Linked DNA regions of Homo sapiens. The protein of the gene in region 1 purifies or fractionates together with the protein of each later gene. This does not show direct contact. Each region holds a gene or a part of one and is shown in the gene's direction. Other genes may lie near its edges.

Evidence for each region.
Region 2: the proteins of ZNF816 (region 1) and LRP4 purify together in Homo sapiens (affinity purification with mass spectrometry; 2 studies listed by BioGRID and IntAct, with this or other methods). This does not show direct contact.
Region 3: the proteins of ZNF816 (region 1) and ZC3H18 purify together in Homo sapiens (affinity purification with mass spectrometry; 2 studies listed by BioGRID and IntAct, with this or other methods). This does not show direct contact.
Region 4: the proteins of ZNF816 (region 1) and TOPORS purify together in Homo sapiens (affinity purification with mass spectrometry; 2 studies listed by BioGRID and IntAct, with this or other methods). This does not show direct contact.

The regions. Positions count from the first base shown.
Region 1 is NC_000019.10:52,958,547-52,968,433, reverse strand, and holds the start of ZNF816 (zinc finger protein 816), read left to right. Parts: upstream 1-5,552; 5' UTR 5,553-5,707; exon of another isoform or gene 5,708-5,717; intron 5,718-8,256; exon of another isoform or gene 8,257-8,407; intron 8,408-9,887. UniProt on the Homo sapiens protein: May be involved in transcriptional regulation.
Region 2 is NC_000011.10:46,854,995-46,860,891, reverse strand, and holds the end of LRP4 (low-density lipoprotein receptor-related protein 4 precursor), read left to right. Parts: intron 1-1,576; coding exon 1,577-1,909; 3' UTR 1,910-4,175; downstream 4,176-5,897. UniProt on the Homo sapiens protein: Mediates SOST-dependent inhibition of bone formation. Functions as a specific facilitator of SOST-mediated inhibition of Wnt signaling.
Region 3 is NC_000016.10:88,593,353-88,602,915, forward strand, and holds part of ZC3H18 (zinc finger CCCH domain-containing protein 18), read left to right. Parts: intron 1-4,825; coding exon 4,826-4,974; intron 4,975-5,267; coding exon 5,268-5,360; intron 5,361-6,438; coding exon 6,439-6,596; intron 6,597-9,563.
Region 4 is NC_000009.12:32,538,505-32,543,610, reverse strand, and holds the end of TOPORS (E3 ubiquitin-protein ligase Topors), read left to right. Parts: coding exon 1-2,224; 3' UTR 2,225-3,067; downstream 3,068-5,106. UniProt on the Homo sapiens protein: Functions as an E3 ubiquitin-protein ligase and as an E3 SUMO1-protein ligase. Probable tumor suppressor involved in cell growth, cell proliferation and apoptosis that regulates p53/TP53 stability through ubiquitin-dependent degradation.

The DNA.
Region 1 (9,887 bases):
AATTTTCATTTAAAATTGTTTATTGTTAATGTATGAAAATTCAACGAATTTTTGGTGCTGATATTGTATTGTGCAAATCTACTGATGTGTTTATTAGTCACAGTAGTATTTTGGTTGACTCTTTGTGATTTTCTACACAGAAGATCATGTCATCTACAAAAAATATAATTTTACTTTTTCTGATTTTGAGGCATTTCATTTCTTTTGCTAGTTCATTGCTCTGGCTAGGACTTCCAGTATTTATTGAATAGAAAAAGTGAGAACGTTCTTGCATCATGTGAGATCCTACGGGAAAAGGATTCTATTTTCCCTGCTTGGTTATCTCCACATTGGTCATTTCATCAATGGTCTTTCTATTGGTGAGGTAAATTTCCTTCTCCATCTATTTTGTTTAAGATTTCTATGATGATCAGATGCTGAATTTTGTGAAATGATTTTTCTCCATCTGTTGAGATGATGTGGTTTTCATCTTTCATTCTGTTCAAGTGGTATATCACATTGATTTGCTTGAATATGTTGAACCATCCTTGCATGCCAGAAGTAAATGGCACTTGCATATCTACAATCCTTTTATATATCCTCTTGAATACAGTTTTCTAGTACAAGTGGTCTTCAAGAAGCTCATGGAAAAATACATATTATGGAAAAATTGTGCATGAATTTCACAGTTTTTGCACCAAAATAAACTGATACAAATCTGTTATAACATGTCTGAACAGGCTCTAGTTTGAGGCACTGAGAAGGATAAGACATGAGTTTGAAAAGAGACTGTATCAAAGGAATACAAATTCTGCTAAAATTGAAACAAGAAGAAACATAAAATTTATGATGAGAACAGTTGCAGTGTCTCAGGTCTGTAATTCCAGTAATTTCAGAGGCCAAGACAGGTGGGTCACGTGAGCCCAGGCATTCAGGACCAGCCTGGGCAACATGGTGAAAACCCCTTCTATACAAAAAATACAGAAATTCACTGGGCAGGGTGGCACCTGACTGCAGGGCCAGCTACTGTGGAGTCTGTAGCATGAGGATGGCATGAGCCTGGGAGGTCGAGGCTGCAGTGAGCTGTGATCTTGCCACTGCACTCCAGCATGTCTCAAAAAAAGAATACTTATGGTAAAGTTTGGGTAGATGAATTATGATATCATTGATGCTTTATGAAAAGGTTATGGGGACGATGCCCAAAAGAAATCAACAGTTTGTAAATGGATAACTAATTTTGAGTTGGGAGAAGACAATGTTGAAGGTTACACGTGGAGCAGCAGGCAGACCATCCACATCAGTTTCAGAGAAAAACAATAATCTTGTTTGTGCCGTGATGAAGAGGACTGACAGCTAACAGCAGAAACAATAGTCAGGAGGTTGAGAACAGGCTGGTTAACATGGTGAAATGCCATCTCTATTAAAAATACAAAAATTAGCTAGGTATGGTCGCAGACACCTGTAATCCCAGCTCCTTGGGAGGCTGAGGTGGGAGAATCGCTTGAACCCAGGAGGTGGAAGTTGCAGTGAACCGATAGTGCCATTGCACTCCAGCCTGGGCAACAAGAGTGAAACTTTCTCTCAAAAAAAAAAAAAAAAAAAAAAAAAAAAAGATGTCAAGCCCCTTCTCTTCCTTTCTCCACCATCATGGTGTGTACTTGACTCTGCTTCTCACCAGATCTTCTCATAAGACTATCAGGATTAAGCAATTCCTGGCCAAGAAAAAAAGCAAAATTGTTCCATTCCCCAGTGGATTCAGATGAAAACTGGTAATAAAATCAGGTACAACTTTAAAAGGAGACATTGGAGAAGAACCAATCCGTGTCTATAAGGAATTGTACATGAGATGGCACACATTTTTATGCTGTCTGAGCATTACAATCACGTTACCATATCAAGCAGAAAATGTCACCATTATCTGGAGAGTTGGACATGTTTTATTGGGAATATATTTTTTCTCTCTGAATCTGTTATGAACATGTTGGTTGGCTGGGTTCAGTAATAAATATGTGAGGCTTTTCATTTCAAAAAAAAGTCAAATGATGTAATTCCATAGAGTACCTTAATTCCCGTATTGCTTTTTGGTTTTTTTTGAGATGGAGACTCCACTGGGTTCAGTGGATCACACTTGTGGTCCTCACACATTCGGAGGCTGAGGTGGGAGGATTGCTTGAGATCAGGAGTCTTCTGGGAATCTTCTCGCCTCCGCTAACCCAGTTCAGGATAGACCCTTGGACTTTACTGTTTTGGAAAATCTATATAAACCAATATCAGTGTGTCAAAGCATTATGTCTGTCAGAAGGTTGTGAAAGAAGCTTAAAAATTACTAAGCCAAAGAGAAAAGTCAGGCTGGGAACTGTGTCAGACAAACCTGCCTCCCATTTTATTCCTAAAAGAGACAGCTACAAGGATTTTTTACAAAGCTACATAGAGGCTGGGTATGGTGGCTCAGGCCTCTAATCCCAGCACTTTGGGAGGCTGCGGTGGGTGGATCGCCTGAGGTCGGGAGTTCGAGACCAGCCTGACTAACATGGAGGTACCCCGTCTCTAGTAAAAATAGAAAATTAGTCAGGCATGGTGGCATATGCCTGTAATACCTGCTACTCGGGAGGCTGAGGCAGGAGAGTCACGTGAACCCAGGAGACAGAGGTTGTAGTGAGCCGAGACCACACCATTTCACTCCAGCCTAAGCAATGAGAATGAAACTCCATCTCAAAGATGAATAAATGAATACATAGATACATAAATATTTAAAATATAAAGATGAGGTTTCACCATGTGCCTGGGCTGGTCTCCAACTTTTGGCCACTAGCTATCTTTCTGCTTCGGTCTCCCATCATGCTGGAATTACATGCACGAGCCACCATCCCTGGCCACATTATGCTTTTTTAAACTTGCTAATATTTTAGATATGCTAATTTCTTCCTAAACATAATTATGTTTTAGCTAATTACTAGTATTTGATAAATGAAACCTTCGATAACTAGGGATGTGAGTGAAAAATATAGTTCATAGTACATGTTAACTTACAGATATTGCCATAAAATTATTGCATGCAGAAATGCGGTGATGTAAAAGTTTATAATTTTTTTTTTCTTTTTTTGAGATGCAGTCTCACTCTGTTGCCCAGGCTGGAGTGCAATGGTGAGATGTCAGCTCACTGCAACCTCTGCTGCCTGGGCTCAAGCAATTCTCCTGCCTCAACCTCTTGAGTAGCTGAGATTACAGGCGCATGCCACCATGCCCAGCTAATTTTTGTATTTTTAGTACAGATGGGGTTTCGCTGTGTTGGCCAGGCTGATCTCAAACTCCTGACCTCAGGGTGATCCATTCGCCTAGGCCTGCCAAAGTGCTGGGATTACAGGTGTGAGCCATCACACCCAGCCAATTTTGTAATTTAGTTATATTTTCTTCAGGGCCCACGTAAAACAGAATAACCTGACTGCAATGTATCCTTAGTAATATCTCATAATTATTCTCTATATGAAAATAAATCCCAATGTTTGAAGACTGCCTATTTTACAGCCTTTGTTGTTCACACCTGATAGAACACTTAGGAGAGAACAACAAAGAAAACACCCAAAATAGATTACAATTGGATGGGTGTGGTAGCTCGCCTTTAATCCCAACACTTTGGGAAGCTAAGGTGGGAGGATTGTTTGAGTACAGGAGTTCAAGGCCAGCCTAAGCATCATAGTGGACCCCCGACTCTACAAAATATTAAAAAATTAGCCAGGCCTGGTGGTGAGGGCCTGTGGCCCCAGCTAGTTGGGAGGTGAGACGGGAGGATTGCTTGAGCCCCAGAGGTTGAGGTTGCAGTGGGCAGTGTTCCCACCACTGCATTCCATCCTGGGTGTCAGAACTAGGTCCTGTTTCTAGGGAAAAAAAAATTACAACTTGAAGATAAAAAGTACATTTTCTACTTATTTTCAGAAGGCACGTAAAGTGAATTTGATATTACAATACACTTAGGAATTATTTTTTAAAAAAAGAATTTGAGAATGAGGACCAAGGTCTAATTTTTTTCTCTTGCCCAAATTCCTATCTAAAGGGTCTGGGGAGTCATGCCCTACAAACCATAAATACTCATCAGATGGGTTTTATTTAGTCCTATATATCCTGTCTTACTTTCCAGTCTGACTCTGGAATAACGTGACAAAGAAGAAAGTCAAAATATTTTACCCCAAAACATGTTTCTGTGCCATATTTTGAAATGGTCCTGCAAAGCTGTTCTTTGTGAGGGGTACATGTGCATTTGTAAAGAATCTCTGTTAACATAGCTAGATCTTTTTCTTCTAGGCCCTACCAATCCTGAAGAGATTAAGTAAGAATCTCGCACTGTTTAAAGGTCTGAATAGAAAACACTTATCATCTATTATCTCTAAGGGCAGCCAATAGAAGACTTGAAAACAACATTGGTCTCCACAATCTTTTACCTTAACGTGAACATTTCCTCTCCGTTGATCCCAGGTATTTAGACAAACTCAACCAATTGTCAATCAGAAAATGTTTCAATTTACCTGTAGCCCAGAAGTCCCCGCTTTGAGTTGCCCCTCCTTTCTGAACCAAAGCAGCGTATTTCTTAAATGTATTTGATTGATGTCTAATGCCTCCCTAAAATGTCTAAGAACAAGCTGTTCCCCATCACCTTGGACACATGTTCTCAGGACCTCCTGAGGGTCATTCATATTTAGCTTAGAATAAATCTCTTAAGATATTTTACAGTTTGATTCTTTTCCACGACAAAAATAACTCATTTTAAGTGCAGCATGAAATAATAAACGTAAGAAACAACTGGGCAACTTATATGCACTGTTACAATGTCAGTGCTTTTTTTAAATCACTTTTTTGTTTATTGAGACGGAGGAGGGAGCTCTGGGATAGAGGGTCTTACTTTGTCGCCCAGGCTGGCCTGGAACTCCAGGCTCAGCGATCCTCTCGCCCCTGCTTCCTGAGTAGCGGGGACCCCAGACTCCTGCCACCCCGCCCGCATCCCTGCTGTGTTTAAGCACACTCCTCTGCTCCGCACCCCAGACGGTGGCCCTAGGGAAGTCTCAGGAGCTGAGCACAGTGTGGACTCTCCCACTCCAGTGAATGGAGAATTGAAAGGGAGAGGATTTCTATTCTGTTCTGTGGACCGTCAGCATGAAATTGTACCTTTCGCTCAGGCAAGGCTTTGCATTTCGCATTCTAGTTTGCATTCCTGCCGTAGACAACTTCCAGGCTTTGGAATTAAATTGCTAAAATAAATTTCAATAGCAAGGAACTTTCCCGGATCCAATTACCGCCACACGGCGACTTCTCAGGGAGGTACTATTTCCCTGACTGCTGAGCTGCTCCAGCCTCACTGGCGGGTTTCACCTCTAAAACCTTGAAAACAGAGGCGCGGAGAGCGAGATGGAGAAAAGCTCAGGCCCCGCCCCTTTCCCGCCCCCGCGGACTCCTCCCAGCCCAAGACTCTTCTCTTCCGCGCCGGGCCCCTTGTCCTTTGCACCCCGCCCCGGCCTCGCCCAGGCCCCGCCCACCTCTCGGGGATCTGGCCCAGGTCCCGCTTCTGTCCTGCGCCGATTGGCACAGACCCGGAAGCGGATGGCGTGGACTGAAAGTTGCACGGCGGCGTGTGCGTTTCCTAGTTGTCTGGTGCTGCTATATAGGGGACGTGGGGTCCCCACAGACCTGCAGGTTCCGGCCCCTCTTTTCTCAACCCAGAGCAAATTGAAACGTCCGGGTGAGAGTCCGTGAGTCGCTTCCTTTTGAGTTTAAAGTTGCCCTGAGGCTGGTCCCGTCCCCGGTCTTTCTGCAGTGGGGCCGTGCAGACACCTCCTGTCGCGAAACTTTCCTTAGCAAAACCCTTTCTGACGCGTCCTCCCGCCTCGCGCTGTTTCAAGTCCTCACCCGGAGCTGGATTCTTGCCCTGGGCAAGAGCGCTTCCCAGCCTCGCTCTAGTCGGCCCCTGGAGCGCAGCGTTGCAGCCCCGCAGCCCCAGGGTGGCCGGTGCTTTGTGGCCACTCCTGGGCTCTTTCCCTTTCCATCTGAGACGTGGTGGAAGTGGGAGGGCTACAGGGAGAGTACCCTTTGATCCTTTGTTACTACGGGTGGGGAGATGGGGTTATTCCTTTTGGTCTAGTTTTGCAAAGTTCACATTAATTGGCCTTAGATTCCCAGAGCCAGGACCCAGATTTTCACTTTTCTTCTTTGTTGTTGGAGATGGGTCTCTGTGCCTACAGACTAGTATAGCCTGTGCCTGGACTAGTATAGTATAGTATAGTCTCTGTGCCTGGACTAGTATAGTCCAGCGGGGGCCGTCCAGTCTCAATGAAATTCTGGATGAGCCTAGGCAGTCTGTAATTTAGAAAATTTACGTAATGAGTTCTTTTCAGTGTGGTTTAAGCCTCACCAAGTGACTGTCCTTGTTGTGCTGTTGTATACAACTTCTGTCCTAGACAATTGAGCTTTCTTACGGGGTTGCTGAAGTTTTTTCTTTCCTTAGCTACATAGTATTGTCTAATAACTGAGGTTTTTAGGACCTAGAAGTTGCTAGTTTGGGCCTTCTGAGCTGGAATTGTGTGAGGAACTGGATCAGTGGGCACCAACTCTCGGGCTTCCTGAGGCCATCGGTCTCCAACAGTAGTTCCTCCGCGTACATAACAAGAAGCAACATTGAGGGAATGAGCTACATTTTCCGTTAACTGGAGAAACAAGTTCCTTGTCTTTTTTGGAAGCTCTGGTGCTGGCAGATTTAGCTCATTATAAAAGGCTTGAAACACTGGTTTGGGAAAGGGCCTGGGGACCTCCCCTCGGACTAAAATGGCAACTTGGGGGGTTACCCTTGTCCTATTGACCGTCAGGATTACACCTTCTCTTTTTCTCTAACGGGGGTCTAGGGAATTAGTGATTATTAGTTCTAGTGGGTTACAGTGACTGCTAGCACAGGAGGGGTTGGCTTCTTTTTTTTGAAAGTGAACCGGGTCTTTTTTGTCATTTTTCTAAGTAGCCTAAATAACACATGGGCAACAGGCAAATTTTCACAGACCTCTGCCTCATGACAAACATTTATTTTCTACTGTGCAGCTCCTTTCTTAGTTAAGAGAGCCACATCTTAATCTGAGCTTGTTACTATTAATGGCTGCACAAGCATCAAATTTAAAGTTTCTTGTTTGGGGATTCTTTTTTCTTCTGTTCTAGTTATTATTTTACTTGTGTCACCTAGGAAAGGACCAGTTCTTAATCTTATTTGAAAAACGGTGGTTGCAGGAGGCTTAGATGGGTTATAACCCATAGTAGGTTTGTCATTTCCTGGGCTACGTACCTTGTATTGAGTGGAATTATACAAATAAGATCCTTTTAACGTGCCTGTACATTCATAATAACTATAGAACAGAAAGATTGTTTTAATTTGCTGTCCTATCTCAGTGACCTGATGAATACACTGGGAACAGTCCTTAGTTTGAGGAAGGTCAGTTGAAGCCTTTACTGTACAAGTCTAAAATTTAAGAAGAATGAGTCCCACGATGAGCTTCCTCATGCTTCCACTGTGCGTAGGACCAGTCAGCTTCCGGGTGTGACTGGAGCAGGGCTTGTCGTCTTCTTCAGGGTCACTTTGCAGGGGTTATCTGGGCTTGGCCTTGCCTCCCAGGTTTCAGGCGCTGCAGGTTTTATATGGCTGTGGTGGATCCAGGCCGGGATTCCTTCTACCTTCACAGCGGTGGGAGTGGTCAGGATGACGGTCTGGGGTACTTTCCAGTGGGGGCACACAGGGGCTACGTTCCAGTCCTTGATCCACACTCAATCACCCGGGGAGAAAGAGTGAACTGGGGAGAATAAGCTAATGGGGCATCTCTCATTTACCTGGGCTGAAATCATTTGTGTAATTTTTCCTAAGGCCTTAAGCTATTTTTGATAATCCGATTCATTCACTCCACCTTTCCAGAACTCTGAGGTCAGAAGGCAGCATGCAGTTTCCACGTGATCTTTAATACCTTTGCTGTCGTCTGTACTAAGTCAGCCACAAACTCCAGCCCGTTATCCGAGCTGATTCGTAAGGGCCGTCCAAATCTAGGAATAAGATCTCGAAGAAGCACATGAGCTTTCTCAGTTCGTGTGGGATAAGCCTCCACCTACCTAGAGTAGGTACACACGAGAACTAGTAAATACTTGTTACTTCTACACTTTGGCATTTCTGTGAAGTCCACCTGGAGATCTTCAAAGGGGGCTGCTTCATAAGCTTGTATGCCGGGCAGAATGGCTGAACCCTGCCTCGCATTGTGCTGTCGGCAGGTAACACACCGCTGTGCCACGGTTTTGGCGAGGGCTGACAATTGTGAGCTGTAGAAGTACCAGCCTAACAACTGTTCAAGTGACTCCTGACCTAGATGGGTGGTTTCATGCACCTCCAGTACAACTGTGGCTCCTAGCAGCTGTGGCACAGGTACTGTCCTATTTGGTGACCGGATCCTTCCTTCTTCCATCACCTGTCTTCCCTCTGCCTGGAGAAAGTCTTTTTCTTCTTTAGAATAAGTAGGTACAAGGTCAGGTGCTTGAGGGAGCAAGGGGGCTGTGACTGATGCCCAGTAGGGTGTGGATGTTGCTTTTCGAGCTTCTGAGTCAGCTCTGGAGTTCCCTAAGGCAACCGAGGTGGAAGCTCGCTGGTGTCCTCTGCAGTGCATGACTGCCACATTGTGGGGTTTCTATGCTGCTTCTAATAATTGCAAGATTTCTTGCTGATATTTTATGTCTTTTTCTCCAGAGTTCAACAGGCCCTTTTCTTTATATAATGCTTTATGCACTTGAAGGGTTAAAAAGGCATACCGAGAGTCAGTGTAAATATTTTCAGTCTTACCTTCACTGAGTTCTAAGGCCTGAATTAAAGCAATGAGCTCGGCTTTCTGGGCTGAAGTGCCCTGGGACAACGATCTGGCATCAATGGCAGTGTCCAGGGTTACTACCGCATATCCTGCACATCTCTCTCCTTGTGGGCTGTTGAAGCTGCTCCTGTCCACTTATAGCTCCCAGTCTACTGATGCCCAAGGCTGGTCTCAAAGGTCAAGCCTGCTAAAGTAAACTGAGTCCAACACCTCTACACAGTTATGCTCAACAGGGCTGTCTGATACCAAGAGTAAGGTGGCGGGGTTCAGGGTGTTACAAACTTCAATGGTTATGTGGGGATTTTCACAGAGCAAGCTTTGGTACTTGTTTAGTCTAGCATTCATTAGCCAATGATGTCTTTTGGTATTCATTAAAGTCACCACAGCATGGGGGGCCTTTATGTTCAGGTTTTGCCTAAGAGTTAGTTTATCTGCTTCTTCTGCCAGCAGGGCAGTTGCTGCCAAGGCCCTCAAACATGAGGGCTAACCTTTAGAATCCCCATTTAGTTTCTTAGAGAGGCAGGCCACTGGCCTCGGCCAGGGCCCCACAGTTTGGATCAAAACCCTAACTGCCGTATTTTCTCTCTCAGAAACATACAGCGTAAAAGGCTTTGTCAGGTCAGGTAACCCCAGGGCTGGGGCTGACATAAGATTTTCTTTTAACTCATGAAAGGCTTGCTGTTGTTGGGATCTCCGTTCAAAAGGTTCCTGGTCCTGCCCCTTTGTGACTCCGTACAGAGGCTTGGCCAGTACTACAAAGTTTGGGATCCACGGTCTGCAGAACCTCACAGCACCTAAGAATTCTTTCACCTGCTTTCTGGTCTTAGGCTTCAGTAGGTTGCAAAAAGCCTGCTTTCCTTCTGATCCCAGGCTGCGCTCCCCCTGTTGGATAGTAAATCCTAGGTAATGTACCTGCTGTCAGCAGATCTGGGCTTTCTTCTTGGACAACTTATACCTATAGTCCTCCAAGGGCCAGAGTAGGGCATCCTTTCCCTTGGCACACTCAACTGCCATGGGGTGTCCTAACAGAAGGTCATCAACGTA
Region 2 (5,897 bases), on another chromosome or scaffold:
TCCCAAATTGCAAGTGCCATATCCCCCACCTCTCCCTAACTTACCCAGCGTGTCTCTTAATTAAGACATTGAGTGGTCTGCATCTTATACTAATTTCATCTTGGAGGGTGTGCTGGGTGAACAGACATCTGTGTGTTTGCTTGTGTGCTATGTCCCACTCTGCATGGCTGAGGGGACTGTCACTCTCAGAGGGCAGGGACCATGTTTTATATTGTATAATCATCAAAGCACCTAGCACAGTCTTCTGCTTAACATAGGGGCTCAGTAAATATCTGTGGAATTGAATTGTTACAAAAATAGAGCCACAGCCACAGTTGCAGAACTCTTGGCAGGAATACTATCCCAGGGACAGAACCCAAGATGATCCATTTTCTTCTAGCAGTGGTGGTATGTCGGTTGGTATACCCCAGCAGCCAGGAGTGAGGCTGCTCTTTGAAGAAGCCATAAAGGGAGAGGCCCGAGCAGAACTCCAGGCTGTGCCTGGAAGAGTCCCAGGTTTTGCTTGGGAATGGTCCCAGGACTCATGGCAGCAGAGCGAGAGTAACCTCCCAAAAAAGGTTATAAGTTGCAGGACCCCACTATATTGACGTTTAGGACCCAGATAAGAAGATTTCCTTTTTTTTAGTTTTTTTTCTTTCTTTCTTTCTTTTTTTTTTTTTAATGGAATCTTGCTCTGTCACCCAGGCTGGAGTGCAGTGGCATGATCTTGGCTCACTGTAACCTCAGCCTCCGGAGTTCAAGGGATTCTCCTGCCTCAGCCTCCCAAATAGCTGGGATTACAGGCACCCGCCACCAAACCCAGCTGATTTTTGTATTTTTAGTAGAGATGGGGTTTCACCATGTTGGCCAGGCTAGTCTCGAACTCCTGAACTCAAGTGATCTGCCCGCCTGGGCCTCCCAAAGTGCTGGGATTACAGGTGTAAGCCACCACGCCCGGCCAGATAAGAGGATTTTCTAGAGTCCCCTGTCTTACCTCCCAAGTTTTCTCCTTAACAAAATTAGAAAAAAGAGATACAAACTAGCACCCGAAGTAGCTTAAAATCCTGAATAAATGTACATTTAATTGCTCTTGCCAATTGCTTTTGATGATTTATATCAGCATGATGTCCCATTAATAAACCACAGTAACAATGTAACATAGCTAACATGTTATAGTGCATCTTGTGTCAAGCTCCCTGATAACTGCATTCCATGTATCATCTCATTTAAGGTGACAGCAGTTGGTTGTGAGGTGTGGATACTGTTACTCTCCTCACACTGCAGAGTCTTAAGAGACTGAGTTTTAGAAATGTGAAATAATTTGCCTAAGGTGACAAAGCCAGTGAGTGGCTGCTGCAGGACCGGAAGCCATGGTTTTCCCTCCTCCTGTATGGTAATGGTAATAATTATCACAGCTGCCTCTCCCCTTTTAGGCTAGGCCTCATACACTTGTCTTAATCACATTTCCCCATTTGTTTGTGGGATTTTTGTGCGCTTCACTCCTACTCTTACCCCATCCACTTCCTTTTTCAGTTTACCATGGGATCCTTTGTAGAAGGCCAACTGACTGACCATATCTGCCCACTCTCCACCCTAGGGAGGGCCTGACCATAACTACACCAAGGAGAAGATCAAGATCGTAGAGGGAATCTGCCTCCTGTCTGGGGATGATGCTGAGTGGGATGACCTCAAGCAACTGCGAAGCTCACGGGGGGGCCTCCTCCGGGATCATGTATGCATGAAGACAGACACGGTGTCCATCCAGGCCAGCTCTGGCTCCCTGGATGACACAGAGACGGAGCAGCTGTTACAGGAAGAGCAGTCTGAGTGTAGCAGCGTCCATACTGCAGCCACTCCAGAAAGACGAGGCTCTCTGCCAGACACGGGCTGGAAACATGAACGCAAGCTCTCCTCAGAGAGCCAGGTCTAAATGCCCACATTCTCTTCCCTGCCTGCCTGTTCCTTCTCCTTTATGGACGTCTAGTCCTTGTGCTCGCTTACACCGCAGGCCCCGCTTCTGTGTGCTTGTCCTCCTCCTCCTCCCACCCCATAACTGTTCCTAAGCCTTCACCGGAGCTGTTTACCACGTGAGTCCATAACTACCTGTGCACAAGAAATGATGGCACATCACGAGAATTTAGACCTGGATTTTACCATGAACCTCACATCTTGTACTCCATCCTGGGCCCCCTGAAACTGCTTATTCGTGATTCCTCACCAGCGTAGAGCTCCACCTCCCCTTTCCCCAGTACCCTCAGTGCCTGCTTCTCAGTGCTGATGCAGCTGATGACCCAGGACTGCGCTCTGCCCCATCACAGCCAGCATGACTGCTTCTCTGAGAGAACTTGCCCATCAGGGGCTGGGACATGGGGGTGTGGGTAAAGACAGGGATGAAGGATAGAGGCTGAGAGAAGAAGGAAGAATCAGCCCAGCAGGTATGGGCATCTGGGAAACCTCCAGCCTCAAGTGTGTTAGTAACATGAAAAAGCTTTGGGGGGTAGTTGGATCTGGGTGTCTGGTCCATTGCTGGCAGTGGACATTATTCTTGCCCTAAGAGACACTGCCTTTTCAGCAGCAGATACTGGTGAGATGGGGGTGGCTCAGGCTGTTCTTCCTCCTCCTAGAATGTCTGGAGCTGTTTCTACATTCAGATAACTGGGTCCCCTATCACAAGGCTACTGGCTAATAGGAATTCCCTCCTGGTGCCACCACTGGCCAGTACCTTTCCTAAGTCTTTGCTCAAATTAACCAGGTTGTGAGCCAGTGGCTTGAGTGAATGTTAGGCCTTGGGGGCTGAGTCTCTGAAAAGTCTAAGAAGCTCTGCCTAGACCAAATATGGTATACCTCCTGACCCCTCTCTCCCTCATGTCCTGGGATTCTGGGGAAGAGACCTAGAAACAAGCTTTCAAAGAAAAACCAGAAGTTGTCATAAATGGTCAGAAAGAACGATCAGGTTGGAGACTTGGGAAACCCAGGGCCTAAAGAGAAGTATCCATGAGGGTCAAACTTCCTGTTGAACTTCCTATGTTCTTTCTCAAGTGCTCAGGGATCTAAGTTAGTGGACAGCAAGCCTGTGGCTACGGGGTGGTGATGTTCCTCTTCCAGCTGTCCCCTCAGCTAAGGGGCTTAGTTTCCATGTGGGATGCCATCACTTGGTTCATGCTCATTCACACAAAGGGCACGTGTCTCAGCCTGGTATCAGGGAAATTGAGACTTATTTTTGCCCTAAAACGTCTCCCTAGCTGTTCTTCGTGGGGTTTTTTTGTTTGTTTTTTTGCCTAATTTGCTTTTTCTGACCAAGCCTTGTGGCACCAGCAATCTCCAAAGTCCTGTGGTGGGAGGGCTGAATAAATAAAAATACAAAGAGGTGGGTAAGGAGTAGGAAGGTAGAGAGCACCACTGATGAGGCCCTCCTAGCCCATGGCAGACCCAGACCTCTTCTCCCCCAGGAATTAGAAGTGGCAGGAGAGAACAACAGGGGCTGGGAATGGAGGGGAGAATTTCTAGGGGAAGTTTCCTGAGTTGAAACTTCTCCTGTGGTTACTGGTATTGAGAAATCAGCTACCAAAGTGAAAAAGGACAAGATCAATTCTTTTCTAGTCAGTTCTAAGACTGCTAGAGAGAGATACCAGGCCCTTAGCCTTGCTCTCAGTAGCGTCAGCCCCAGTTCTGAGCCTCCCCACATTACACTTAACAAGCAGTAAAGGAGTGAGCACTTTGGGTCCTTAGACTCACGTCTGGGGAGGAAGAGCAAGTAGAAAAGTGGCATTTTCTTGATTGGAAAGGGGGAAGGATCTTATTGCACTTGGGCTGTTCAGAATGTAGAAAGGACATATTTGAGGAAGTATCTATTTGAGCACTGATTTACTCTGTAAAAAGCAAAATCTCTCTGTCCTAAACTAATGGAAGCGATTCTCCCATGCTCATGTGTAATGGTTTTAACGTTACTCACTGGAGAGATTGGACTTTCTGGAGTTATTTAACCACTATGTTCAGTATTTTAGGACTTTATGATAATTTAATATAAATTTAGCTTTTCTTAATCACCTTGCCTGGCTTGGAGTCATGACTAATCCTGCACCTGCTCTGTCTGGCAGACCCATGCTGTGGAAAACCTGCTTACAGACATCACTTTTAAGTCCTTTGTGGATGTGGGCACAGTGAAGAGCAATAAAGAGTGTGAGGTTCCTGCTGGAGTTTTCAGCTCATCTGGAGAAGACAGGTCGAGGCCAGAGTTCCTTGACTGATGAAACCTTTATTTCCTCTGGAAGAGGAATGGTAGATGGGTTTCCTCTTGAGTGCTGACTCTGACTGGTTGGTAGTGGCTGCCTGAGGGCCTATTCGCACCCAATGGGAAGAATGTCATATGGCTAGTGACATCTCTTCTGTGCACTGGAAGGAAATGTCATGGCATGTATACCATGTATCTTCTATTTCTGTTCTAGGTCTTTGTTACAGAACTTTACTTTGCCTTGCAGTGATGGTCACTGGCAAGACTATCTCATGTAGTAAGAAAAGTACTGGAGCTGGGGACATGGAGGGCTAATTCCAGTCCCAGATCTGCCACTAGCTCTGTTTGATCTTAGTCAACTTTCATAGTTAGTCTGAGAGTGGATCAAATTATCACTAGGATTTCATTTATTTTTAAAAGCTGTCTTTTCATAGCTCATCCACTACTTCTCAAGGCTAGAACAAGGAGCTAGGGATCCCTTCTCAGGTTCTCTGGATGTGATATCCCTCAGTGAAAACTGGGAATCATGTTAATCTCAACGCCCGATGTAGAATTTCATGTCAAGTCTCAATAGTTGATTTTCTAAACCACACACCATCTATAGGATAATATCCCCATTCATTCATTCATTCATTCATTCATTCATCTGCTATGGGCTAGGCACTGCCCATGCCTAAACAAAGACATAATCTTACAGAGCTTAGAGTCTAGCAACACCATTACCACCACCATCCCAAAAAAAGACAAAAAATGAAAGTAAGAAAGACTGAAGCTTCTTGTATTTAAGTGACCAGAGATCTGAGTATAAGCTACAGTGTATAATTTTTCTAACTGTAGTAAGGAGTAGGTGTGCCAGAACAAAAACAAGTAGAATAGCCCAAGGATAACCATCCCTCCAACCCCCACTGTTCTCTTTGGGAGGGAAAAAAAAAGCAGAAAAGGAGGACATCTTGGGATAAAACAAAGGTTGGGAATTCCTTGTCTAGTTCTCTGGTATAAAATCTGAAACTAGGGTCAGGCACAGTGGCTACACCAAAGTAATCTCACCACTTTGGGAGGCCAAGACAGAAGTAAGGAGTATTGCTTGAGGCCTGGAGTTCACGATCAGCCTGGGCAACATGACAGGACCATATCTCTACAAAAAAATTTAAAAATATTAGTCAGGTGTGGTAGCTCATGCCTGTAGTCCCAGCTGCTTGGGAGGCTGAGGCAGGAGGATTGCTTGAGCCCAGGAGTTCAAGGTTACAGTGAGCTATGATCACGCCACTGCATTCCATCCTGGGTAACAGAGCAAAACCTTGTCACTAAAAAAACAAAACAAAAAAACCCTGAAACTGATAAGTGAGCAGATGGTGGGTCAAGTTCTAACAAACTGGCCATATTTTTGCAAACTCACTCAAAATACAGTCACGGTCTGTCTATGGTGTATGAACAAACTGTGGAATCTAAAATGAAAGGATCTCTGGCCCATAGAAAGGACTCTGGATAAACTGAAGCTGTCACCAAACGTAGGCCTAAATTCAATGCATAGGAACTCAGAGGCAGCATCTACAAAAGCTGAGGGTGCACAGGTTTCTAAGTGGGTTCTAAGAGGGTTCTAAGAGGACCCAGTAATGCACTGATATCCAAGGTTATCCAGGGTCTCGCTCTGTCGCCCAGGCTGGAGTGCAGTGGCACAATCTTCTGC
Region 3 (9,563 bases), on another chromosome or scaffold:
TGGACAGCTTGCATCTGCTGGACAAAGGGATGATTCGTGTCCCAGGTGGGGCAGAGGAGGTCGGCACAAGATTTCATCACGCTGCTCAGCACAGAACATCATTTAAAACTTAGGAATTATTTTTGGAATTTTCGATTTAGTATTTTCAGACGCAGGTAACTGAAACTGTGGAAAGCCAGAAAGCAGAGCTTCTGTGTGTGTCTCAGTACTCAGCGTGGTGGAGTGGCAGCGTGGGTAGAGCCCCTGCCGGCACCCAAGTCCAGCGGCCTCAAGGGGCAGCACGTGCAAGGCTGGAGCTGCGGCTGACCCTGTGCGCTCTCCGTGGAGCACACATTGATGAGAAAGACTGGCAGACATGCCAGGGAATGCAGATCCGGGTCCTGGCAGGAACAAAGTGAGCCTGTGGCTTCAAGGAGAACAACGGACAGTGTTAGCAGTATTAAAATTGGAGCTTTCAGTTGAAAATTGGACTTTTGTGTGCTCACCAGCTTCTCAGTGTGTCAGGACTTTCTCAGGTGACCATTGCAGGATGTCACAGAATCATGCCTGGGTAAAAGACCCATTCAAAGTTCAAGATAGACCAATGGATTTCAGAAGAACCAAGTTGGAAAAGTGTGGTGATAGGGTTCAATTGCAGCTCGCTGTAAGGAGCCTTCCCTTGCTGAGTGCGGTGTCAGGGAGAAGCTCTGAGCACACTGAAAAGGCTTTTAGATGCCCCTCCCTCTCTAGCTGCATCTCTTCCTGGGGCTGTAATGTCCTCTCCTGCTTGAGCCACAGCGGCCCTTCATGGTCGATCGCATGCAGATGGGAGGCCAGGGGTTTTCCAGGGTCAGCATTCAAGAGATTCGCAAAAAGGCAAAGAATGCTATTCCTCTCACCAAATATTTTAAAAACAGTTTCATAAATATTTGTTACTATATATTGGATATCTTGTTATTGTTAAATAATGAGATATCTTTAAGTGTCTCTTAATTTCTAATATCGTACGTATCAATAGAAATGACACATATAAACCAAGTAAACACAGGGAATTGATATTTACTGTATTCAAAATCAGAAGAGACATTTAAAGATACTTCATGTGTGGGCTGTGCTGGAGCATGAGCTGAGCCTCAGTTCCTGCCACCTCTGTGTTTAGTTTCCGGATTTTCCATGTTTCCTATCTGTTTCCTGTCTGTTTCCCTGATCCAGTTTGGGTTGGTTGCTACTGAGCATGCAGGTTCCCTTTCTGTAGTTACATTGTTTAGTGAAAAAAAGCAAGGTTCAGCACAGAGCATAATATATATGCTCAGGTAAAAGGGGGCAATGATTGATGGATGGAGCCCCAGTATATTGATAACTGCCTCTGGGAATGGCCCTGGAGGCATGGGATAGGTGGTCAACTTCACAGTGTACCTTTTAGAGTGGGTGGGTATTTTTTATTTACAAGTATTTCATTTGATTATGAAATATTTCATATATATAAAATAATACAGTGTTTACACAAGCGTAAAGATTAATAAGAGAATAAAACAGTTGGCTGGGCGTGGTGGTTCATGCCTGTAATCCCAGCACTTTGGGAGGCCGAGGCGGGCGGATCACCTGAGGTCGCAAGCTCAAGACTAGCCTGACCAACATGGAGAAACCTCGTTTCTACTAAAAATACAAAATTAGCCAGGCGTGGTGGTGCATGCCTGTAATTCCAGCTACTCGGGAGGCTGAGGCAGGAGAATCACTTGAACCTGGGAGGCGGAGGTTGCAGTGAGCTGAGATTGTGCCATTGCACTCCAGCCTGGGCAACAAGAACAAAACTCCATCTCAAAAAAACAAAAACAAAACAAAAGAAAAACCAGTTGCTGCTGTGCCGACATTCCAGTTAAGAAAAAGACCATCATCCTGTCTTGAAGCCAGAAATAGTACTTAGACATTTCAGCAGTGGAGGGGCCGCCTCCGCCCCGCTCCAGCGGCCTCTGTCCCTCCTTGTCCTCTTCTGGCCTGAGGCCATGTCTGTGTACACAGTATCCGCAGAACTATCTTTATACTGTTAGAATCACAATCCACATAAATTTTGGGTTTGAAGTCCCATTTGTAAACCAGAAGATCTTTATTGTTGCTTCTATTTTCTGGATAATTTCTTTCTTTCTTTTTTTTTTTTTTTTTTTTAACAAATTGCTTTTTAAATTATGAAAGTAAGGCTGGGGACGGTAGCTGACACCTGTAATCCCAGCTCTTTGGGAGGCCGAGGTGGGCGGATCACCTGACTTCAGGAGTTTGAGACCAGCCTGGCTAACATGGCGAAACCCTGTCACTACTAAAAATACAAAAATTAGCCGGGCTTGGTGGTGCACACCTGTAATCCCAGCTACTCGGGAGGCTGAGGCAGGAGAGTTGCTTGAACTGTGAGGCAGAGGTTGCAATGAGCCTAGGTCGCTCCACTGCACTCCAGCCTGGGCAACAGAGCGAGACTCCATCTCAAAAAAAAAAAAATTAAAAAAAGGAAAGAAAGTAATATGGGCTGGCAGAAGGCAAGAAAATAAAATCTAAAGCCCCTTCCCACATTCCCGACAGTTGGGTGTGTTCCTACACAGATAAAAGTTCACATTTTAAAAAGATAGATGGGACAATGGTGTTCTTTCTGCCTGACGTCTGCTGGAAGTGTGTCCCAGCTAGACGTGCAGACCAACTGTGCTGCTTTCCAGAGCCATCTTCCCCTTTACTCTGGCCAGGGGCAGGACAGCGCTCAGCACCCCCGGGCAGGTGGCTCCCGAGAGCTGAACACTGTCACCCACTAGTGTCTGGTCTCTAGTGGCAGCCCCACGCTCGCCTTCTCAGCTTGCTCTTTGGCGCTCACTGGTTTGTTCTCTTCTGCCTTGTTCCTCTTTTCTCCCCATGCCAATATCAGTGAGAAAGGATCTTTTTTGATAGTAGGTTCGTAGGTGATGTCCTAAAAATTTTCATAAATACAGAAAAGAACGATAACATTTAGCCACCACCCAGATACATATTTTAGATGAAAAAGAAGTACAGAGGCCGAGTGTGGTGGTTCACGCCTGTAATCCCAGCACTTTGGGAGGCCGAGGCTGGCAGATCACAAGGTCAGGAGTTCGAGACCAGCCTGACCAAGTTGGTGAAGTCCCGTCTCTACTAAAAATACAAAAATTAGCCTGGCATGGTGGTACCCGCCTGTAATCCCAGCTACTCAGGAGGCTGAGGCAGGAGAATCACTGACACCCAGGAGGTGGAGGTTGCAGTGAGCCGAGATTGCATCATTGCACTCCAGCCTGGGACTGTCTCACTCAGTCAGAGTGAGACTCCATCTGAAAAAAAAAGGAAAAGGAGTACAGAAAAGCTGTGGTTTCTATTGTCAGCACTTTTCTGTACTTGGACATTTTTTACAATGAGCTTTTGTTACTTGTTTAGTTACACACGTGATTTTGAATACTGCATGAGTATTTTCAGAGGCAAACCATGAAGAGCTCTGTAGTGTGTTGAGTCTCAGATGGATGACTGCATAGTCAGTTTTTCTTTAAATCTCTCTGAGGCTCTGGATTTTTGAACCCCCTATAGAATAACATTTCCCAACCTCTTTTGTTTTTTGTTGTTGTTTTTGAGAGAGACTCGCTCTGTTGCCCAGGCTGGAGTGCAGTGGCACGATCTCGGCTCACTGCAAGCTCCACCTCCTGGGTTCACGCCATTCTCCTGCTTCAGCCTCCCAAGTAGCTGGGACTACAGGCACCTGCCACCACGTCCGGCTAATTTTTTGTATTTTTTAGTAGAGACGGGGTTTCACCATGTTAGCCAGGATGGTCTTGATCTCTTGACGTCGTGAGCCACCACGCCTGGCCTCCCAACTTCGTTTGACTTATGTGTGATCTCTGAAATGCTTTTAGAAATTTTAAAAATTACTTGTCATTTTTGCATTTCCAGAGAAGCAGTTTTAAGTTTTCTTTCGTGTTTAATTTGGATCGATATTGTTATTATGTTGTATTGAGTTGGTTTTAATGCAGGCTTAAGTGTTCCTGATGTTTAAGGTTAAAATTTTAAATGATTTAAAATCTAACTGCATGTTAACCCATTGAAAAAAATTTTTAAACCGCTTAGATACTATATGCCATATTTGGTTTTAAACAATGTGTACACATTATCTATTCCCAAAAAAGTACATTTTAAAAAAGTGATTCACTCAGTAATTGAGTTAGACACTTAGATGTCTTATATTCTACACTTGAAAGTCGAGGTCTCCTTTACTAACCCGGATATTCTGTTGAAGATGAAGGTTTGTGATTGTTATTTATGAGCAAAGTGTAAAAGCCCGTTTCAGTTCCAGAAATATCTTGAAATGCCCTGTGAGAGTTTTCTCTGTGAGAGAAATGCAGACGTACAGAGGTGGCCAAGGGGACCCTGAGCACACCTGCAGGCTTCTGATCATTGTTAATGCTTCTCATTGATGTCTGTTTCGGCACAAATACAATTAACATCCAGTTGTACCTAGATGAGCCTGGGCCAGGGCTGGAAGCAAAGCTCTGGGGCTTTTCTGGTTTAAGGGGAAAATTAATACTCAGACAGTTGATACGCGTGAACTCTCCACAAAGTGACTTTGTGGTCACTCTGACCGAGGTGCCTGGCAGCCTCTGGGGAACTGCCGTGCCTGGGCAGGTGCAGCTGTCTGGCTCAGCCTCTCCAGGCTCATCCCGCCCACCTCCCCGTTCAGTTCCCACTACTGTGTGGCTCGCCATCAGGCCTGGGTAAACATGGCCTCTGCCCCCTCCCACCCCCCACCCCAGCAGCTGCCCTTGTGCAATTAGGCTCTTGTGGACCCTTTCTGATCTCACTTTTGTTTCCATAGGGAACTGTACCTGGGGAATGAATTGTAGGTTTATACACCCTGGAGTGAACGACAAGGGGAACTACTCCCTAATCACCAAAGCCGACCCCTTCCCGCCTAATGGTGCCCCGCCTCTCGGACCTCACCCGCTGATGCCCGCCAACCCTTGGGTGCGTGATGCCTCTTCTTTCATTGTTAGCACATCAGCCAACTGAGCTGTGTCTGAATCTCAAGCTTAAGACAAGTCACTGTGCCTTAGCACAGGCTCAGTGCCCCCTTTCGGCTGCTTCTGTCGTCCCGAGTGGAAGCAGGCCTCGGCTTTCCGAGGACGGAGTGAGGCTTGGTGGAAGGAGAGCGGCCACACACGGCCGGCTTGTGTTGTAGTTGATGTTTTTACTGTCTGGTTTCTCTGTACACTTGAAAGTTTTACTTTCTCACCTTCTCCCTTCTCGTTTTTCAATAGGGTGGGCCGGTAGTTGATGAAATTTTGCCTCCACCCCCTCCAGAGCCCCCAACAGAGAGTGCCTGGGAACGAGGACTCCGGCATGCAAAGGAGGTAAACACAATTCAGCAGAAATCCCGACAAGAAAGATGCTATTACAGGAGTGGTTCTTGACAAAACTGGGATTTCCTCGGTCCAGAGAGAGCCCCAGAAATCTCTGAAGTTAGGCGTCTGTTTCTGTGGTGTCTTTCTTTATTTTTTATTTATTTATTTTTTTGGAGACAGAGTTTCACTCTTGTTGCCCAGGCTGGAGTGCAATGGCCCAAACTCGACTCACTGCAGCCTCCGCCTCCCAGGTTCATGTGATTCTCCTGCTCGGCCTCCCAAGTAGCTGGGATTACAGGCATGCGCCACCAGGCCCGGAAGGATGGAGAGTTATATCTAACTGTCTCAGGCAGCAGCCCAGTAGGCCAGGGAGTTCAGTCCAGGGCATACCCACTGTCTTCATGGGGCTGGATCAGCACTGGGCCACACCCCAGCTGGCACTGCCCAGGAGCACAGGGTGCAGTCTCCAGCCACTCACAGAAAGCCTGGCGAGGCTGCCCGAGCCGCACCCCCAGGATCTGCACCCCACACTCCTGAGACTCAGTGTCTGCTCTTCCTGGAGAAAACTTGGAGCTTTCTGGTCCTATCACTGCACACTTCCTCCCTCTAGGCCCACGTTGGCCCCAGTGTGTGAGCTTCAGCTCTGGGGACCACTCTGCTGGCACCCAGCCCCACTTCCTCATTTTCCTGGTCAGCCTCCCTGCTGGGAAATGACGGACAAGATGTTCCTTCTCACTCCCTCGGCATGTCACTTCCTTCCCTCTGAGACTCCAGCCACTCCACCTGCTGCTTGTCACTGAGTGACTGAACCCTGGATCTAGTTCCAAGGGTAGTTGAAGGAAGTGATGAACACCTCATGTGGGCACACGGAGGCCGGGGGCAGCTGTTTGTGCAGAGACGGGCACAGACTGCCCTCCCCAGAAGGACAACTGTGCTGTGTCCGCCCCTCACCCCTTGAGCACTTGCAGCGTGCAGCTCCTGCTCCTGCAGGGCTGCTGCGGTCGGGTGGGACGGCTCCCTTTGTGTTTCCTAACAGCGACGCCCGGTATTCTGTTCCATGTTGACTTCTTTCTTCTTACAATGGTAGGTTTTAAAAAAAGCAACTATTCGAAAAGAACAGGAGCCTGATTTTGAAGAGAAAAGGTTTACGGTGACCATTGGCGAAGACGAACGGGAATTTGACAAAGAAAATGAAGTTTTTCGAGATTGGAATTCTCGGATCCCGAGAGATGTCAGAGACACAGTGTAAGGAATGGCCCTGCCTGCCCCTCCGTTTCCTTCCTGCATGCGGCCACGCTCCGGAGAGAGCAGCCATGTGCAGGGCCCCAGGGTGCGCTCGGCTGAGACCCAGCCCCACTCACTGGAGTCTCAGTGACGTTCCTGAGAGCATTCAGGCACGGTTCTCAGAGCTCATCTCAGTTTTTTGCTTCTAGGAAGGAAGCGTTAGGGCTCTGTGCCATGGGCCTTGACTGGCAGCACTCACACCGTTGTGGTTCCTGAGCTCTGAGAGTTTTCGCTGCTGTCCTTGAGGCCTCTAGAGCCCCACAAGTCTGTGTTTCTGGCTCCTCACCCCTGCCCACATTACCCAGGAGCCAGGAAACGTGTGGAGGTTGCCACAAGCCAGGAACACAACAGCTGCGGCCTCTTCGCTGTCAGGGCTGTTCTGCCTTCACTGCTTCTCCTCCAGGGCATTGATGGCTGGTTTTTGTTTTTTGGTTTTTTTTCCCGAGGCAGAGTCTTGCTCTGTCGCCCAAGCTGGAGTGCAGTTGCGCAATCTTGGCTCACTGCAACCTCCGCCTCCCTGGGTTGAAGTGATTCTCCTGCTTCAGCCTCCTGAGTAGCTGGAACTACAGGTGTCTGCTACCACACCCAACTCAGTTTTGTGTTTTTAGTAGAGATGGATTTCACCATGTTGGCCAGGATGGTCTCGAACTCCTGACCTCAAGTGATCCACCCACGCCTGCCTCCCAGAGTGCTGGGACTACAGGCGTGAACCACTGCACCCAGCCCCTTTATGCCTGGTCTTTAAAAATCCTGTCTTAACAGAAGAAGTGCCTGGGTCGAAGGGTGGAAGTCAGATCTTGGGGGATTGCATGGCATATAAAGTGCTGTTTTCCTCTGCCTGTGGATGGCACGGTGAGGTTCAGGGCAGGGAACTGGATTATAATTCGGGCAGATCTGAATTGGCACTCCATCATGCTGAGGCTTTAGCAGCCCTGTACATTTCTGGTTGCTATTAGGGAATCATAATCACTATGATTTCTATCTGGAGTGACAATAAACGGTGCTCAAAAAAGGAAGGCGTGCAGGGCTTGCACTCCAGGATTTGGTCCTGTCGACTTGGCCCTGCAAGGCCCTTCTCAAGGCCTTCTTGCCGCGAGCAGGCTACCCTGGGCTTTCCGCCTGCGGAAGTTGGGGGAGGAAGCCCCAGTGGCCCACACCTGCCCCAGCAGGTGAGAGCTTAGAGGTTAAAGGGATAGGTATTTAAAGACTTGGTTAACATGTACATTTTCTAATTAAGTTTTGTGTGGAATGTCAGATCACAGAAAGGAGCATTTGAGTCAGAACTCTGCAGGATCACCAGGGGTGTCTCCTGAAGCCCTGGAGGCCTTTGTGTTTTTTTGTTAGATGTGGATATCGTCTTTCCTTCCCCAGAGCTCGTGTGCACAGAGGTCTCTATAAATATGTGTGGGGAAGGATGGATTTTAGAACCTGGGCGTGATCCTTGACACTCTATTTCCAGTTTCCCTGGCTGGAGCAGGGACCGGAAAACTGCCTGCTTGGAAGTGGTTCGGCAGGTCTCTGAGGTTTTTTGGAGTGCCCTCTGTGTGTGTTTTACCTATCAGTGTTGGTTACAGAAACAGGTGTCTCCCATCCTGGCACCAGGTGACAGAAGCTGGCTCCTGGCTCCCTAGCTTCTCTCCCAGGAGCCGGTATCTACACTGCAGGACCCCCAAATGTTAAAGTCTCGGCAGTCAGGGCTGAAAGGTTTTCACTGGTGTCTGAAAGCCAGGTATTTCTGTATGTTTGTATTTTGTTTGTTTTTATAGAGTAGCCTCTGTGTATGTTACAGTTAACCTGAGGCCTTTTGTGCCATGCCTCCCCCGAGACCTGGTGAGTCAGGACCTCTGGGAACAGGGTCAGGGTGCATGTGTCACAGTGGCGAGGTGCCCTGGCTGTTTCTGATAGACACAGTGGAAAGAACTGTCAGGGTTCTGCCAGGAGGGTGGAGACCCCCCTATGATTGTCACAAAGAGCATCTAAGGGAAGGGTGGGTCCACCAGGTAGGTTGCTACAGAGGAAAACAGTGAGTAGAGGGAGCCAGTACAGCTGGGCTGCTGAGACCCGGAGGGAAGGAAGGAGCTGCACTGCAAGTGCAGATGTCCTGGTGCGTGCTGTTGGCAGGAGTGGGTCCTCTTGTCACCCAGCCTTCTCGGTCCTACCTGTGCCCGCTGCAGGCAGGGCCTCACCTGGAACAGCTGGCAAAGCAGGTCGCAGCTTGTAGGGTGTGCAGGAGGGTGGCTGGCAGCCCAGTTGGCGGTCAGGCTCCAGGGCCTTAATGGCACAGAAGAGGCCAAGCCAGCAGCACTTATGTGTTGCAATCCTGCTGCATGACAGGCTTCGCATCCAGTGCTCCTGACCTGTTTTGGGTCACAGCAGGCCGAGGTCAGGGCCATGTCCCTGCCTCACAGGTGAGGAGAGTGCAACCTGGATTGATAGCTGTGACCTCCTGGTGTGGTGCCTTAACCTCAGCCACATCTGCCCCCAGCAGCATGTGAGAGGTCAGATTCTTAGCTCGACCCCAGGAAGACTGAGTCTGAAACTCCAGGGAGAGCCCAGGCCAGTGGTTTGTTTTTAACAAGCCCTCCAGGTAATTCTGATGCATATTAAAGTTTGAGAACCATTGATTGTAAGTAATTCCAGGGACACAAATTCTCTGAAGATACCATGTTATTTTATTTCCTAATGTCGAGAGTTTTCTGTTGGTTTTTTGAGATGAGGTCTTGCTATGTTGCTCAGGCTGGTCTCCAACTCCTGGACTCAAGCAATCCTCGCGCCTGAGCCTCCTAAGTTGCTGGGAATATAGACGTTAGCCACCTGATGTTGAGTTTTGCAAATAATTGTCACATAGAAGCACCTTCATGCAGGCAGGCTTTGCTTACTACAGGATGGAGCTCTAGGCACTTCATTGTAGAACCAGTGGAATATGAG
Region 4 (5,106 bases), on another chromosome or scaffold:
AGTTCTTTTTGGAGCTCATGGATCTTTAGTGAATATTGTCCAGCATATTATCATGAGTAATGTTACTCGCTATGACTTGGAGAGTCAGGCATTTGTGTCTGATTTAAGACCATTTTTACTTAATCGAACTGAGCATTTTATACATGAATTTATCAGTTTTGCCCGATCTCCTTTTAACATGGCAGCCTTTGACCAGCATGCCAATTATGATTGCCCTGCTCCTTCATACGAAGAAGGCAGCCATTCTGATTCTTCAGTCATAACAATATCTCCAGATGAGGCTGAGACCCAAGAGCTGGATATTAATGTAGCCACTGTTAGTCAGGCACCATGGGATGATGAAACTCCAGGACCATCTTACTCAAGCTCAGAGCAGGTACACGTTACTATGTCTTCTCTTTTAAATACTTCTGACAGTTCAGATGAAGAACTTGTCACAGGAGGAGCCACGTCTCAGATACAAGGAGTACAAACCAATGACGACCTAAATAATGACAGTGATGATTCTTCAGATAATTGTGTCATTGTTGGGTTTGTTAAACCACTAGCTGAGAGGACCCCAGAACTTGTTGAACTGTCCTCTGATTCTGAGGACTTAGGTTCTTATGAGAAAATGGAGACAGTGAAGACACAAGAACAGGAGCAATCTTACAGTTCTGGTGATAGCGATGTTAGTAGATGCTCATCTCCACACTCTGTCCTTGGAAAGGATGAACAAATAAATAAAGGTCATTGTGATTCTAGTACAAGAATCAAATCAAAGAAGGAAGAGAAACGATCTACATCATTGTCATCTCCCAGAAACCTGAACTCATCTGTAAGAGGAGACAGAGTATATTCTCCATATAACCATAGACACAGAAAGAGGGGAAGATCAAGAAGTTCAGATTCACGTTCTCAGAGTAGAAGTGGGCATGATCAGAAGAATCATAGAAAGCATCATGGGAAGAAAAGAATGAAAAGTAAACGATCCAGAAGCAGGGAAAGTAGCAGACCTAGAGGGAGAAGAGACAAAAAGAGATCAAGAACTAGAGATAGCAGTTGGTCCAGAAGAAGCCAAACTCTGTCTCTAAGTAGTGAAAGCACAAGCAGATCAAGGTCTCGTAGCAGTGATCATGGTAAAAGAAGATCACGGAGCAGAAATAGAGATCGTTATTATTTAAGAAATAATTATGGAAGCAGATACAAATGGGAGTATACTTATTACAGTAGAAACAAGGACAGGGATGGGTACGAATCATCTTACAGGAGGAGGACTCTGTCCAGAGCTCATTATTCTAGACAGTCTTCAAGTCCAGAATTTAGAGTTCAGTCCTTTTCTGAAAGAACAAATGCTAGGAAAAAAAATAATCACAGTGAGAGGAAGTATTACTACTATGAAAGGCACAGATCAAGGAGCCTGTCTAGTAACAGATCAAGGACTGCATCTACCGGGACTGACCGGGTGAGAAATGAAAAGCCTGGAGGGAAACGAAAATACAAAACACGGCATTTGGAGGGTACTAACGAAGTGGCTCAGCCATCTCGTGAATTTGCTTCTAAAGCAAAGGACAGTCATTACCAAAAATCTTCATCAAAATTGGATGGAAACTACAAAAATGAGAGTGATACCTTTTCAGACAGCCGATCATCAGACAGAGAGACAAAACACAAAAGGAGAAAAAGGAAGACCCGGAGCCTAAGTGTAGAGATAGTTTATGAAGGAAAAGCTACTGATACAACTAAACACCATAAAAAGAAAAAGAAGAAACATAAGAAGAAGCATAAGAAACACCATGGAGATAATGCTTCACGTTCCCCAGTTGTAATTACCATTGACAGTGACAGTGATAAGGATTCTGAAGTAAAGGAGGATACAGAATGTGACAATAGTGGTCCTCAAGACCCTCTACAAAATGAGTTTTTGGCTCCTTCCTTGGAACCATTTGAAACTAAAGATGTAGTTACAATAGAAGCTGAATTTGGTGTGCTGGACAAGGAATGTGATATTGCCACACTTAGTAACAACTTGAATAATGCCAACAAAACTGTAGATAATATTCCACCTCTGGCAGCTTCAGTTGAACAAACTCTCGATGTAAGAGAAGAGAGCACCTTTGTTTCTGATTTGGAGAACCAGCCCAGTAACATTGTGTCTCTTCAAACTGAGCCATCAAGGCAATTGCCATCGCCACGGACATCATTAATGTCAGTATGTCTTGGTAGAGACTGTGATATGTCTTAAAACTGCCAAAGCATTTCATTGAGAATTATGATGTTATAAAAAGGAAAAAGGAAGAATGTCGTCTACTGCAGTCTATTTAAAGATGACATTTGGTGAAAACTCTCTTCCTCCTTACAATATTTTAAATGATTTTTTTTTTGGTGTTAATTTGTAAAAATCATTATTTGTTCAAAATGTATGTCCCACCCTCAAAGATATGCACTTTTAAGTGAAGAAAATGATACTGCTAGCAGCTTATTTAAAACTTGGGGTCCTTTTTAAATAAGAAAAATTATATAAATTTTAGAAGTTATTTCATAAAGCCATACGGTATTGACATATTTTTAAGGTAGTCAATGAGTATTTTTGAATTTTTTTTTTTTGAGAGTTATTCTGGAAATGTGTTATAAGCTAGGAGAATCCCTTTGGACAGTCTTTATTTTTCTTCTTAAAAATTTATATGATTCAAAACCATTTCTTCAGGTTAAATTGAGGCATTTTAATCTGCACAGTTTATCTTCTGCCAAAATAAAAATTTACTATTTCCTTTATATACTTGTTTATCTGGACTGCCAGTAAAACAAATGTGTATTCAACAAAAGAAAAAAAATAAAACAGTAACACTTTAAAACAAGAATCAGACATTTTCCTATGCAGTATTTTTTTTTAAAGTTTATTTTAGTAAAGTTAAAATCTTGAAAGTAGCTAAGGGCATAATTATGTCATAAATACTGAACTTCAGGTGAACAAATACTTTATAGTTTTAATTATTTTCTTTGATTTTGAGGAGTATCTTATTTGCTTTCTATCATCAGTAAAAACAGCATTTAACTTGCTAAATAAACATGAAAAACCCTTGTCATACTTCTTTTACATTGGTAGTTCTTTCATATAAAGTGGTTATGTTTTATCTTGTTTTAGGGATGATAAAATTACATCTATGCTGATGTAGGATTGCCACTGAACAGTGGAGCTTGAGTTAAATCTTAATTCAGCCTTCAGTTTGCCTTTGCCTTGCTACTGTATTCATTCTTTATTCAGTAGAAATTGCAGTGCCTACTATGTGGCAGGTTCTGCACTAAGTTTTGGGGTTTTTTTTTTTGTTGTTGTTGTTGTTTTTTTTTTTGAGTTGGAGTCTGGCTCTGTTGCCTAGGCTGGAGTTCAGTGGTGCAATCTCACTTCACCACAACCTCTGCCTCCCGGGTTCAAGCGATTCTCCTGCCTCAGCCTCCGGAGTAGCTGGGACTACAGGCACGCGCCACCATGTCCGGTTAATTTTTGTGTTTTTAGTAGAGGCGGGGTTTCACTATGTTGGCCAGACTGGTCTCAAACCCCTGACCGTGATCCGCCCGCCTCAGCCTCCCAAAGTGCTGGGATTACAGGCATGAGCCACTGCACCTGGCGGTTCTGTTTTATCAATAGAGCAAAGCAGTTATGCTCCCTGCCTTGATGGTGCTTATGGACTGTTAAGACAAATATTTATGTAAGTATAACATTATAAACTATCATACATTCTCTGAGGAGAAAGTATAATTCCCTTACAAGTGAATGGGGATCTAATCATGATTGGACGTAATAGTTGAATCCAGAAAGCAAGCCAGCATTAACGGGGGAGGAATTGCTGTTGGCAAAGGATCCAAAGGCAGATGAAGAGCCTAGCATATTCCAAGAACTAAAAGCAGGATTAGACAAAGGACAGGGTGGGAACAGTCTTGGTAGGCCATGTTTAGAATCCGTTATTCTAAGGACAGTAGAAAATTGTCTAAGAAGAATCTAAAATTGATGTTGGCAATTTTTAAGTAAGCTCAGACATTGAGAAATTGTGGGAAGACTATAGTTGATCAAGAAATACACATTAAGTTTGAAATTACTTTGTAGTTAACAATGTAATTTTTCTTAAGTATTAAAAACAACACTATTCCACATAGTAATTTCACATCATGTTTTCCCTTAAACATTTAATGAAAACAATACATGGCACATCATCCTTTTGGGTGTTCAAGCCAAAAATTGCCAAGTCTTGATTCGTCCCTGTCCTTCAGCCCCCCTCATTCAGCTGCCAAATCCTTGGCACTAATGATTTTTATGATATTTCTATTGTGTCTGTAGCATTCACATCCAATCTGGGTAGCCAAGATCTTTCATCTGTGCTACCATAATGGGTCAGCTTGCATTCATTGTTGGTCTGCACCCGCTCCTTTCCCCCATCCATTTGTGATGCAGCACTGAAAAGATTTTTTTTTCTCTTGAGACAGTCTCACTCTGTCGCCCAGGCTGGAGTACAGTGGCACAGTCTTGGCTCACTGCAACGCAAGCTCCACCTCCTGGGTTCAAGTGATTATCCTATCCCAGCTTCCCGAGTAGCTGGGATTACAGGTGCCCACCACCACGCCCGGCTAGTTTTTGTATTTTTAGTAGAGACGGGGTCTCACCGTGTTGGCCAGGCTGGTCTCGGACTCCTGACCTCAGGTGATCTGCACGCTTTTGCCTCCCAAAGTGCTGGGATTACAGGCATGAGCCACCGTGCCCTGCCGATCTTTTTAAATTTTCATTTCATCTGCTTCTTAAAATCCTTCAGTAGCTTCCTATTTTCTTAGGATATTAAAAGCAGACAAAAAAATCCAACAGCATGATATGGTTTATAGATTTCTGCCTAATTAGGCTCTGGCCCATCTTCAGCATTTCTGTCACTTCATTTGGGCTCATGCCACGCTAGGCTGCTCCAGGGCTATGGAGGTGCTGCTCCGTACTACGTGAGAGCTTTCATTCGTGGCAGTTTCTGCTGGAAACTGAACTCCACCCTGGCTAAACTAGATTTCTGTTAAAAGTGTGCCCTCTTCCCACCTCCCCAAAACTGCTTCAAACAACTCCAGGCTCCTTCAGACCACTCATCACAATTAGCA